Linked DNA regions of Homo sapiens. The protein of the gene in region 3 purifies or fractionates together with the protein of the main gene of each other region. This does not show direct contact. Each region holds a gene or a part of one and is shown on either strand. Other genes may lie near its edges. The genes, in order: SORL1, ATP2B4 and LGALS9.

The links.
Region 1: the proteins of LGALS9 (region 3) and SORL1 purify together in Homo sapiens (affinity purification with mass spectrometry; 3 studies listed by BioGRID and IntAct, with this or other methods). This does not show direct contact.
Region 2: the proteins of LGALS9 (region 3) and ATP2B4 purify together in Homo sapiens (affinity purification with mass spectrometry; 4 studies listed by BioGRID and IntAct, with this or other methods). This does not show direct contact.

The regions. Positions count from the first base shown.
Region 1 is NC_000011.10:121,630,265-121,634,013, reverse strand, and holds the end of SORL1 (sortilin-related receptor preproprotein), read right to left. Parts: 3' UTR 251-3,749; downstream 1-250. UniProt on the Homo sapiens protein: Sorting receptor that directs several proteins to their correct location within the cell. Along with AP-1 complex, involved Golgi apparatus - endosome sorting.
Region 2 is NC_000001.11:203,629,749-203,633,397, reverse strand, and holds part of ATP2B4 (plasma membrane calcium-transporting ATPase 4), read right to left. Parts: intron 1-3,649. UniProt on the Homo sapiens protein: Calcium/calmodulin-regulated and magnesium-dependent enzyme that catalyzes the hydrolysis of ATP coupled with the transport of calcium out of the cell. By regulating sperm cell calcium homeostasis, may play a role in sperm motility.
Region 3 is NC_000017.11:27,629,622-27,633,370, reverse strand, and holds the start of LGALS9 (galectin-9), read right to left. Parts: upstream 2,184-3,749; 5' UTR 2,106-2,183; coding exon 2,067-2,105; intron 1-2,066. UniProt on the Homo sapiens protein: Binds galactosides. Has high affinity for the Forssman pentasaccharide. Ligand for HAVCR2/TIM3. Binding to HAVCR2 induces T-helper type 1 lymphocyte (Th1) death.

The DNA.
Region 1 (3,749 bases), on a different chromosome or scaffold from region 3:
TTCTTAGCAAACTGTCTCTTAGCAAATGTAGTTACAAATTTAAGGGAGCCACTTTAGTCATTGTCCCTACGGAATAATTCTGTTTACTTCAAAACAGCCAGCACATCTTCCCCCTCCTCAACCAACACAAAGACATCGTGTTCTTCAAGGATCCACCATCTGAGACCAGCTTGTTAATAACAAAATTATTCCAGGCCTTGGTGTTCTCTCATCTATGAAATAAACATCCGTTTAAAACAGACCAATCAAATGGGGTTTGGAGACTGCGTCAGCCATCTTTATTGCGCTCTAAAGAACAGCTCGAGACACACAGAGACAGTGGATTTTCAAAGAGGTGTTTTCTTGACCCAGTTAAATTTTTATTCAGTGAAAAAAGTTGACATTGAGACAAAAATTATCTTAAAGTTGTGCAACAATACAGTAAAACCTTCAGCAGATTTCAGTGACTTGGAAACTTATCGAGGCAATTGAAATTATAAATACTTAATTTCGCTTTGGAGAGAAACAAGTATACAGTGTTTCACTTTAAATAAGAGTAGAATAGGCCTTTATTTTGCCGCAAATACTTTTGATTTTGCCTAAAGTTTCTAATAGTTCATAACAAGAGTCTTTAAATGAGAAGTGACATAGAATATTTGAGGATAATGGTCCACTCCAGCATTCATGCTTATTCCATTTGAGCTATTACACATGAAACTCATACCATTCTTGGGTTATTACTTGGCTGTGACGATTTAATTCATAATATGGCTGCTCAAAATTAGTGGGCAGAAACATACATACAACCCATCCTCCCTCAACCCATTTTCGGTGCTGGTACTCCATCTGAAAACACACTTACTGTCCATGTACCCAGCAGTACATATCTCTTCCTATCTATTCCATATCTCAGTCTTGCATAGAAAGTAGTCTATATAAACTTAATGCACTGGCTTTTATTACACAAAAATTGTACCTGAAAGGCAGCACACACTCCAGTTAAGAAAAATAACACAACAGGAATGTCAAGATACAATCCCAACACAAGATTCTGCACAGAGTTTTAGAGTCAATTCCTAAAATCAATATGGGATGATATTCAGTTTAGTTATGTCTCTGGATGCCTTCTCTAAGGGACTCATCCAACTGTCTGCAGAAGGAAGAAAATTTTCAGGAATTCCCCATGACTCCCTTCATGAAGAAGGGACTGACCAAACCTGATAGGATGGTGTTTCTGCCCTAAGGAAGTGTACTGGAAATATAATCTTACTAGATGCAGTGACCACTTGGTAAGCATCTGAAGGCAGCATTCGCCAAGAAGGAGTAGGCGCTCATCTCTAAGGGGCTCACCATACTATTGCTCTCCCAAGCTTCCCCTGAAAATGGCCAGTTCTGAGAAGGGTTACATTCCCTAAATTGCTGAGTACAGCTTCATCTAGTGGGCCAAACATGATGGGCAGGAGAGAACAGGCAGCTGTGTGTCTTCTGTCTGTCCCACCCAAATATCCCTGGTGATGCTACCAAAGACAGAACCCCAGGAATTACTTGTCCAAAAGTCAGAGTTTCAACCAGTTACCCAGAATGATAACTATTTACCCAGCTTGTCAAGGTAGCCAGTAGTTCCTGGAGCTTCTCACCTGTCTGGAACTAGGACTGCACAGACATGGCCTCTTCCTGGAATCCTCTGTAGAACTCCACTCTCTAACATTTTATCCATGTGGACTCGTATCTCATAAAGCTCAAGGGGCATTCAATACATCCAGGAGTAAAATCGGTTTCCAGAGAAAACTCATAAGCAAACCCCCTGCCCACCAATTTTTAGAGGCCCATCGTGGTCCACATGGATGCAAGCATCTGACATTCTAATGTATGCCAGGAGAGAATAAAACCTTTTTCCTGCACAGTGTGAACTTCTGAGGTGGCATCTCCAACAAGGTACAAAAGCCCCTTCTTCACAAGCAAGCAGGGACTCCGATTGGTCACAGTGAAGACAGTTATGTGGTCACCTTCAGAGGCTGCCTGTAGTACAAGGCATTTGTTTTCATTTTCTATTGGCACTCCAACCTCTGGATTCTTTCAGACAGCATATATACATGAAATCCCCACAAAGCTACACAGAGGGAAACAGGAGTGTGTGCTTCAAAAGTTCATAAAAATATACAATTTACATATAGCTGCAGCTATCTAGCTTAGTCTTCAGGAACTTAGCTCTTCTGTTTATATAAAATACTCTAGCCCTAAAAGGCTGCTTTTTTTCAAACAGCACAGTGGCATTTTCCAAGGAGAGGGGTGATGGCCAGTCTACAGTACTGTGCACTAAGCATTGGGAGGCACTGGTAGCTAGAACCGGATGCTCGGAAATATCTCAAGCTGCCAACTGGAGACATATGCTCTGTAAAAAGGCTTGCCTATGGAATAACTGAAAATAACATCTCAGAGCCTTTTATATCAGCTTTTACAAATGCCACCAAAAAGTTGGCAGAAAAAGAAAAGAAAATACACTTCCTAGTGGTTCAATTAAATGACTTGCCTCCCACCAGGTTGTTAATGATTCAACTATTTAAAGAGCTTATTAAAGGGGAGGTGGTAGGGCTTAGAGTTTTGAACAAATCTCTACGGTAAGACAAGATAAAGCCAAAAAAAATTCCAGTCTTTAAAAAAAAAAACTTAGGAAAGTGACAGGAAAGAAGAGAAAATACGCTAGAAGAAGGCTTATCATTACCACCAGTTGTTAACATGAAATACAGTCCTACCCGTATGGCAAACTAAAGGTCGACAGCTTAAAATACTCATCTAAGTATACATATAAATAAAAATTTCAAAAACTAAAAAATTTAATTGGCTCTTTCTTTGTTTTCTAAACAATCCCTAAGTAGAATGAAACTATATTATCACCCAAGAATGATACTTGTGGTTAAAAGAAACTAAACACTTGTGAGAAGGTGATGCCTCGCACCTAAGCGGGGATGGGGTTTTACAAAGCTTGCACGTCAAGGACACATATTCAGAGACATGACTTTGGAATATTCCCAGACCTCACTGCTTCTTGGCTGAAAGGAAATTCTTCAGTGAGAATCATACAGCACAAGTCACAACGATGCTCGACATTGGTGCCCACAACACTAAGCCTAAATAAAGGGCTTGCATCAGCCCACGATGGATTCTACATAAGTATCAAGTGGCCATGGTTTGAATACACGGGTGGCATTTTAAAGGCAGAAGAAAAAAAGCACAGCTTGTTTTACAGAGAGAATAAATGAACAAACTCTAGTGCTCCTGCTGTTGTTAACTGGATTGAGTAGTCTCAACTTTTTAGATCTTCTCTATCTCTATGAGAATGTACAGCACTGTCTCTTTAGATTGGGTGGGGGCATGGGTGAGGGAGATGGAAGAAGAGGAGAAAAAAAAAGAGAAGGCACTGTCCAATTCAAAATGACTGCATATATCAGTATGGATTTTTAAGGACAATAAGTGGCCATCTCAAACCAAATACATAATTTTACATCTGAGATCCTTCAGTAGTAAGTAAAAACAAAAAATGGAAAATGGAAAAATTATGTACTCTATTAGCCAGTGTATGGATCATGGCACAGATCTAGAACTCTCCCCCACAACCAGGGTAAGTTTTTGCAATGACAATGAAACCAGTGTGTAATAAAGCAGTGTTATCATTTTGTAGCTCTCAAAGCTACATCTTGTACAGAGGCACATACAGTAAAATTCCATCAATTAATATAAGAGAGGAAGCTGTGGGCTTACAGGGCTTCCCA
Region 2 (3,649 bases), on a different chromosome or scaffold from region 3:
GCCTCAAACGCCTGGGCTCCAGCGATCCTCCTGCCCTGGCCTCCCAGTGTGGTAGGATTACAGAGTGAGGCCTTGTGTCTGGCCTCGTTGGCATTTCTGTTCAGAGTTTTCCCTCCCTGCTCCTCCCTGTCCATGTCAACTGTCAAAATAGACTCAAGGAATTTTTAATATTCAATGTGTTACAATCTATTACCATTATCCTTTGGAATGCTTAATGTGTTTCACCTCTGGTTGGCGGGAGACCCTTTAAGCCAGCTCCTGTGACAACATGTCATGACATGAGCATGCTCTAGTTTCTGGCACAACACAGTTCACTTATACTTTCCCAGTCTCAGACTTGAAATTAGTCATTTTTTCAAGGAGCACTGTTCCTTACAACCTCCCCCGTGGGAAGTTGTACTTAGAAATAAAAATCCAGGTACTAGGTGTGTTCCTTTCCACAGTCCTTTCAGTGGACAGACCCACAAGATATACAAAAAAACCCCGAAAGATTCTTTTTCCCCTTCCCCCATTCCATACTTATATCTCTCTTTTTCCATAGTGAGACCCTGATTTCCAGAAATATCACCATAGTTACTCATTTCATCTATCATACAATAAACGAAACAGTTTCCAATTTATGACACAAATACCACAACCAATAACATGTCTACAAAGTAAAGGTCAAGATTTCTTTGTAGGTGGTTTTTTTTTTTTTTTTTACTTAAAATATGAATATAGAATCAGGGAATGAAGGTTAAAAAGTACTTAAATTAGGCCAGGCGTGGTGGCTCACGCCTGTAATCCCAGCACTTTGGGAGGCTGAGGTGGGCGGATCATGAGGTCGGGAGATCGAAACCATCCTGGCTAACATGGTGAAACCCTGTCTCTACTAAAAATACAAAAAATTAGCCGGGCGTGGTGGCAGGCGCCTGTAGTCCCAGCTACTCAGGAAGATAAGGCAGGAGAATGGCGTGAACCCGGGCGGCAGAGCTTGCAGTGAGCCGAGATCCCACCACCGCACTCCAGCCTGGGCAACAGAGCGAGACTCTGTCTCAAAAAAAAAAAAATTTCTTACTTCTCCTGCTTTCTTATCCCAAAGGTGGCATACTATATACTGTACTATGTCTTGGTTTTTTCACTTAATAATATATCCTAACAATCATGTCATATAAGTTCACAGGGCTCCTAGTCATTCTTTTTTTTTTCTTTTTGGCTACCTAGGATTCTATTGTATGGACTGTACCATTGTTTGTTTAACCATTTTTTAAAGAATGGGCATTTGGATAGTTTCCAATGATTTCCTATTGTAAATATGCCTTTAAAAACCACCTTGTGGCTGGGCTTGGTGGCTCACACCTATAATCCCAGCTCAGGCAGGTAGATTGCCTGAGCTCAGGAGTTTGAGACCAGCCTGGGCAACACGGTGAAACCCCATCTCTATTAAAATACAAAAAATTAGCCGGTGTGGTGGCTAGCACTTGTAATCCCAGCTACTCACGAGGCTGAGACAGGAGAATTGCTTGAACCCGGAAGGCAGAGCTTACAGTGAGCTGAGATCGCGCCGCTGCACTCCAGCCTGGGCGACAGAGCGAGACTCTGTCTCAAAAAACAAACAAACAAACAAACAAAAATCACCTTGTACGTAGCTTTCCATATTTGTGAATGAGCACCTTCTGGATAAATTCCTAGACGTAGGATTGCTGGGTAAATGTGTACGTAGCTTTGTTAGATATTGCTAACTTCCCGGGCTCAATACTAACAGCCCGTCTTACCCCTGGGACTCCCAGCGCCCAGCACGGAGCCTGGGATGTTAGATGGGCTGTTAGTATTGAGGGTATACTACTTGTTTGTATTCCTGGCATTGATTTCGCAACCTAGGTAGACCTTGCCATGAGGTGTTCTAAGCTAAGACTTTCCTTGAACCTAGCTGAGAGTCCCTGACCTTCCTACCAATAAACGCACTGCTCCAAACTCCCTTTGCCACACCCCAAGTGAAGTGGCAGAAAGGCAAGAGGAAGGGGGTCTTAGTAATCCCATCCCAGTTCATCTTCCCTGAGTTGTCCCAGGGATTTGTGCATGAAACTTGGGAAACTAGAGCAGAGGTGAGTAATGAGGCTGAGGATCTTAGGCAGAGAGGAACTGGGGTGAGGAAAGGTAGAAATGGGGGCTCTGCCCCTTGGCACCTATGTTCTCAATCCTTTCCTTTCCTTTGGCCTCTCCACTATCCTTCACACATAGACTGCCTCTCAAGCCTCTTCCCTGACCCAGAGCCCTTGGCTCTGGTCCTCACTAGATCCTGCCTGGTTTCCCTCCTCAACTCAAGTTCATGTAGGCTGAACACAGAGGACTGGCTTAAGGTAGAGGCAGAAATAGAAAGTCCCTGTCATTTCTGTTTTAACATGTACAGAGGAAATAAGTCAGTGGAACAAGAATGGCTCACACAAGGGAAAGAGGAAAGAGGACACAAGGAGAGATACTGGCAGAGGAAGCCAAGGGCAAAACATTCCACACAAGCATTTTGGACTCCAGCCCCAGGGCCTGCTCTAATCCTATGACCTGCAGAAAAGGGGACATGAGTGGAGAAAGGTTGTCATCCCAGTCTGACAAGGCAGAGGCCTTGCTTTTCTCATCCCTCTTTCCTTCTCACCCCTACCCACCAAATACCCACTGGGATGACAGGAATCAATGCTTATCTGAGAAGCAGGGAACTGGGCTGGGTAGGGAGCCTTGTCTGAGGGGCGCCCTTCGGGGGAAGAATTCAGATTGCCTGAAGAATCCTTCCAGAGAAGGATAGTTAAGACTCTGGGTGGGGTGTTCCCCTTCAAGGTCAAACACTTGGAGCTAATCTAACCTAAGCCAAACAGTTTTTTAGGGGTTTGGCTAACGGGGTTTGTCTTGGTCATTCTGGGGACTAAGAATGAACAAGATCCTTTTCTCTCTCCAAGGCTTAGTGGGTCTGCAATGCTCTGTCCTAGTGGATAGGGCTAATCCATGTCTTTGGGTGCTGGGTCCAAGGCCAGGAGCATTGAAAAAAAAAAAAAAAAAAGAGAGAGAGAGAGAGAGAGAGAAAAGGGGTTTCGGAGTTTTTGAGAGAAGCTAAATTCTTGAATAAGGGGCAGTTTCCGGTGGAAGGCTTGACCTGCTGACAGGTGGCAGGGAGCAGCCCAGACCCCGTTCCTCTCGGGACCTCCGGTTAGTGGGAGTGGGGAAGAGTAAAGCCTCCCGATATCCTGGCCCAGGACATCCAGCCCCTACACATCACCTTACCTCTTCCAGCCCCCACACCTTCGGCAAATTCTAACTGCTCTCCTTCTGCCCCTAACTGGGCCCTCTCATTTTGATTTTCTTCTGACAAAGACCACAGCAGTGTGACAAATCTGCCTAGCCACGCCCTGTCACCTCTACCGTGGAGAGCAGGCTTTCCATTGTGCAGAGGGGAAACTGGAGGCCAGACGGCGGGTTAGGAACTCGCTGGCGTCAGGCTGATTCCAAGGCCCCCAAACTGCCCGTGCTTCTCTCAACATGCCTTGACCCAGCGCTCTAACATCCCAGGCTCCGTGCTGGGCGCTGGGAGTCCCAGGGGTAAGACGGGCTGTGCTCCTTTGACTTGACCTTGAATCTAGAGACTTGGTGGTAAATGGAAGGGAGAAGGGTCTGAGGCTCGGCA
Region 3 (3,749 bases):
CAACACTGTAAGAACAAATGTGTTGTTTTGAGGTTGACCAGCTAAGGCTGCTGTGGCATTTGGATCCATGTGTGTCCATGAGGGCTCTGGGCATGACTAGGAACATTTATCCTCACAGCAACCCCGGCCACTTTTACAGATGAGGAAACTGAGGCACAGAAAAGTTCAGTCACTTGCTCAAAGTTACACAACTGGTCAGCAACAGAGCTGGGATTTGAACCCCAGCACCCACGCTTCTAACCACCACACAGGCTTCCTCTCATGAGTAAGCTGAGAACATCCTTATTCCTGGCTCTCCCAGTGCTTCCTGGACCACACAGCACGTGGTTCCAGCTTCCCCCAGGCCCTCCAAAGAGGCTGGGCTAGATGAGGCCAGACAAGAAGTGGGAGTGAGGTTTCCAAGCCAGGCCCTCATGGCACTCAGCCCTCCTCAGCAGGACAGCGAACCGCGTGACCTTCCCCCACTGTCGGCATGTGGAGGAAGCGTGGCTCCGACTGCCAGATGGGTCACCAAGTGAGGCTTAATTGTCCCAACCCAGGGGAGCCCCCGTGGGGTAGAGGGGTACTCTGGACACCCATAGGGGCTGCACTGATCATCTTTCTTGTCTGGACTCCAAGGCCCTGTTTTAACTCTCTGATGTCCGTAGGATAATTTTCCTTCTGAATCCAAGGATTAGAAAGTAAAAACCAGTCACCAGAATAATAATATGTCAGAACCTGGAAGAAGCTCTGGGATCCCCTCTTTGACAGAAAACCAGAGACAGGGTGACATGCCCAAGGCAGCACCTGCTGACCCTAAGGCCCCCACCAGCGGCCTGTTCCAGCTTCCCCCAGCCCCCTCTGTGCAGGTCCTACCTCAGGGGCCTCCACAGGGTGGCTGAGGTGTCATTGGTGACAGCCAGGAGGAAACAGGCCTCCTTTCCCCATTCTTTCTCTCTGGAGTTTAGAAAGCAGAGCCGAGCTCTGCAGACCAGAACGTAGGCAGCCTCATTCTGGACTCAGTGTCACCAGGGGGCACTCAAGCCCGACCCTGGCCTCTGCTGAGGTGGGCCATGGCAGCTTCCCTCCCTCAGTACCCTGCCTCTGCCCACCCTCCCCACCCTGCCTCCCCACCCAGGAAGGACCCATCAGCCCACCCTCTCCAGCCCCTCGGGAAGCTCTTTGCCAAGGCGGGGTGAGATCCTATGACAGGAGCCGGCCCAGGACACAGTGACCCCTGAAGTCTCCTGGGCTCCTGGGGCTGCCACTCCCATCTGGAGGCATTTGGCAACTGGCCTCTGCCTCCCTGAGCCTCAGATTTTCCGTGTATGAAGGGGACTCATAAACCTCACAGGGTTTCAGCAAGGCACCTGCCGCCCTCTGACCCCACGCTGCAGGGACAGTCCTCACCCCCCTCTCACCTCTGAGACTGCCCCTCCACAGATGCCCTGAACATGCCCATGCCCAACCTTCAGAGCACAGACACCTCCTCGGGAGGTCTTCCCTGCTGCCCTCAGACACCCAATAACATGAAACACTCCCAAAGCACCTACAGTGTGTCAGGCACTGTTCAAACACACTAGATACACTACTTCCTTAATCCATATCCCAACCCTGGGAGTGGGGGGCTCAAGTATTATTCCCACTTCACAGATATGGAAACTGAGGCCCAGAGACCACCAGCCAGTAAATAGCTGGACCCAGGGAGGCCACCTTCACAGTAAGCACCCTTAACTACCATGCCGGGTAGCGTCCTTACTGTCCCAGAAGCGTGCTTGCTTCCTCTTTACATGAACCACCCCGCTCTACATGTCTTCCCCTGAGCACACAGGACAGGACAGGACAGGACAGCTCAGTCAACACTGTCAAAGCCATGACTCGTGGGAAGGAGCATCCCTCCAGGCATGAGTGAGCTCAGCACGGCACAGGTGTGCCAGGATGACCTCCTCTGATATTTCTGCCCTGCTTGTGTTCTCTTTGGGATGCCCCCACCCCCATCCCCTGCCACCCAGGAGTTGCTTCCTCAGAGCCCCAGAGCTGTGTCCCTCTGGCTGAGGCAGCCCTGTGCCCATAGCCCTGGAACTCACTGGACTCAGGTAGGGAGCCTGGGAACCGCTGAAGGCCATCTCTCCGCCGCCTCTGTGGCCACCGCTGCCTTTCACACCCACTAGGAAGTCCTTTGTAGAGGGAACGACTTAACAAAGAAATAGAAACCAAAGCAACTTGGCTGTTATTCAATGGGGAGGAGCCGGCAGCAAAAGGAAGTGGGTCCAGAGAGAGAAAGGTATGGTACTGGGTGGACTGGGGTGACACTCACAGAGGGAAGTAGGCACTCCCAGCCCCAGTGACCTTTCCCTCCTCCCTCTCCTGTGCTCAACCCAAGCCTGAAGCATATTTGGTTCATAGAGGTCTACAATGCTTGACCACACTGACATGACAGCAAGTTGCCAGATGACACTGCCCAGAAGTATGTGGCTGTGTGTCCTAAGCATGCTTGGCCACGGAGTCCAGAAAATAATGGGGCTGGGCATTGCCTGTGCACAGGGTGCTTGTGGGGAAGGGCGGCTTCAACCCATTTTACATACAGAGAAGCTGAGGCTCAGAGTCTAAGGGGCATGCCCCAGGTCACACAGCTAATTCGTGGCCGCCTGAACTTTATGAAGATTCTCAGACTCTTCAAAAAGTATTTCTCCTGTTTAAATTTATATTATTCATGTAAAAACATAATTATGTAGAGGGGAATATTTTGCAAGAAAAACACCATAATGAATATTTTTATTCTACAGTATGGGGTGCCCAGGAGCTTCTGATCCTCCCTCTCAATGAATCTCTCTTGATTCTCTTCTCCTTCTCTTCTCCATCCTTATTTTCTGCACTTTAGGATGAGGAGAGAAGTCTTGGACATGATAGAACATTTCAAGTGACATGGGGCTGGGAAGGAACATATGGCATGTGCAGGTCGTGGGGGAGGGAGCCATGAAATAAACTTACCTGAAGTCGACCAGGTCCCAGCGATGTGCTGGTGAGAAGGCCCAGAACTCAAGCTGGGTAGGGTAAGTGCTGGCAGGTAAGGGCTGTACGGGTGCGAGAGGATGGCAGGTGCCCCAGGGCCATACGTGAGTCTGCACCTCTCTTCCTTCCTGTGCTCCACCTAGATGCACTAGAATTTGCAGACTAATTCCTTTGAGATGCTCCAATAGACTGAGGCCATGTGTGCCATCTGCACTGTCCATCCCCATTATGTTCCTGGATCAAGTACCAGTTTAAGGAGTAGACAGTACAAGGGGAGCAGAAAGGAGAGAAAGGAAGGGAAATTCTTTGCGATCCTCTCGGACACCAGGGACAATTTCATCACGGCACATCATTTGTAGGCAATCACAAATTGATTGCGATACGCAACAACTGGAACTCTCATTCACAGCAGACTGGAGTGTAAAATAATCCAACTTAGAAAAATGGGCAGGGCGTGGTGGCTTATGCCTATAATACCAGCACTTTGAGAGGCTGAGGCAGGAGGATCACTTCAGCCCAGGAGCTTGAGACCAGCTCGGGAAAGGTTGGAAGACCCTGTCCCTACATATAATTTAACAAACAAATTAGCCAGGTGTGGTGGTGCACACCTGTGGTCTCAGCTACATGGGAGGCTGAGGTGGGAGGCTCACTTGACCCCAGGAGGTCAAGGCTGTAGTGAACCCTCATCACGCCACTGCACTCCAGCCTGGGTAATAGAGCAAGACTCTGTCTCAAAAAATTGAAAAATAAAAAATAAA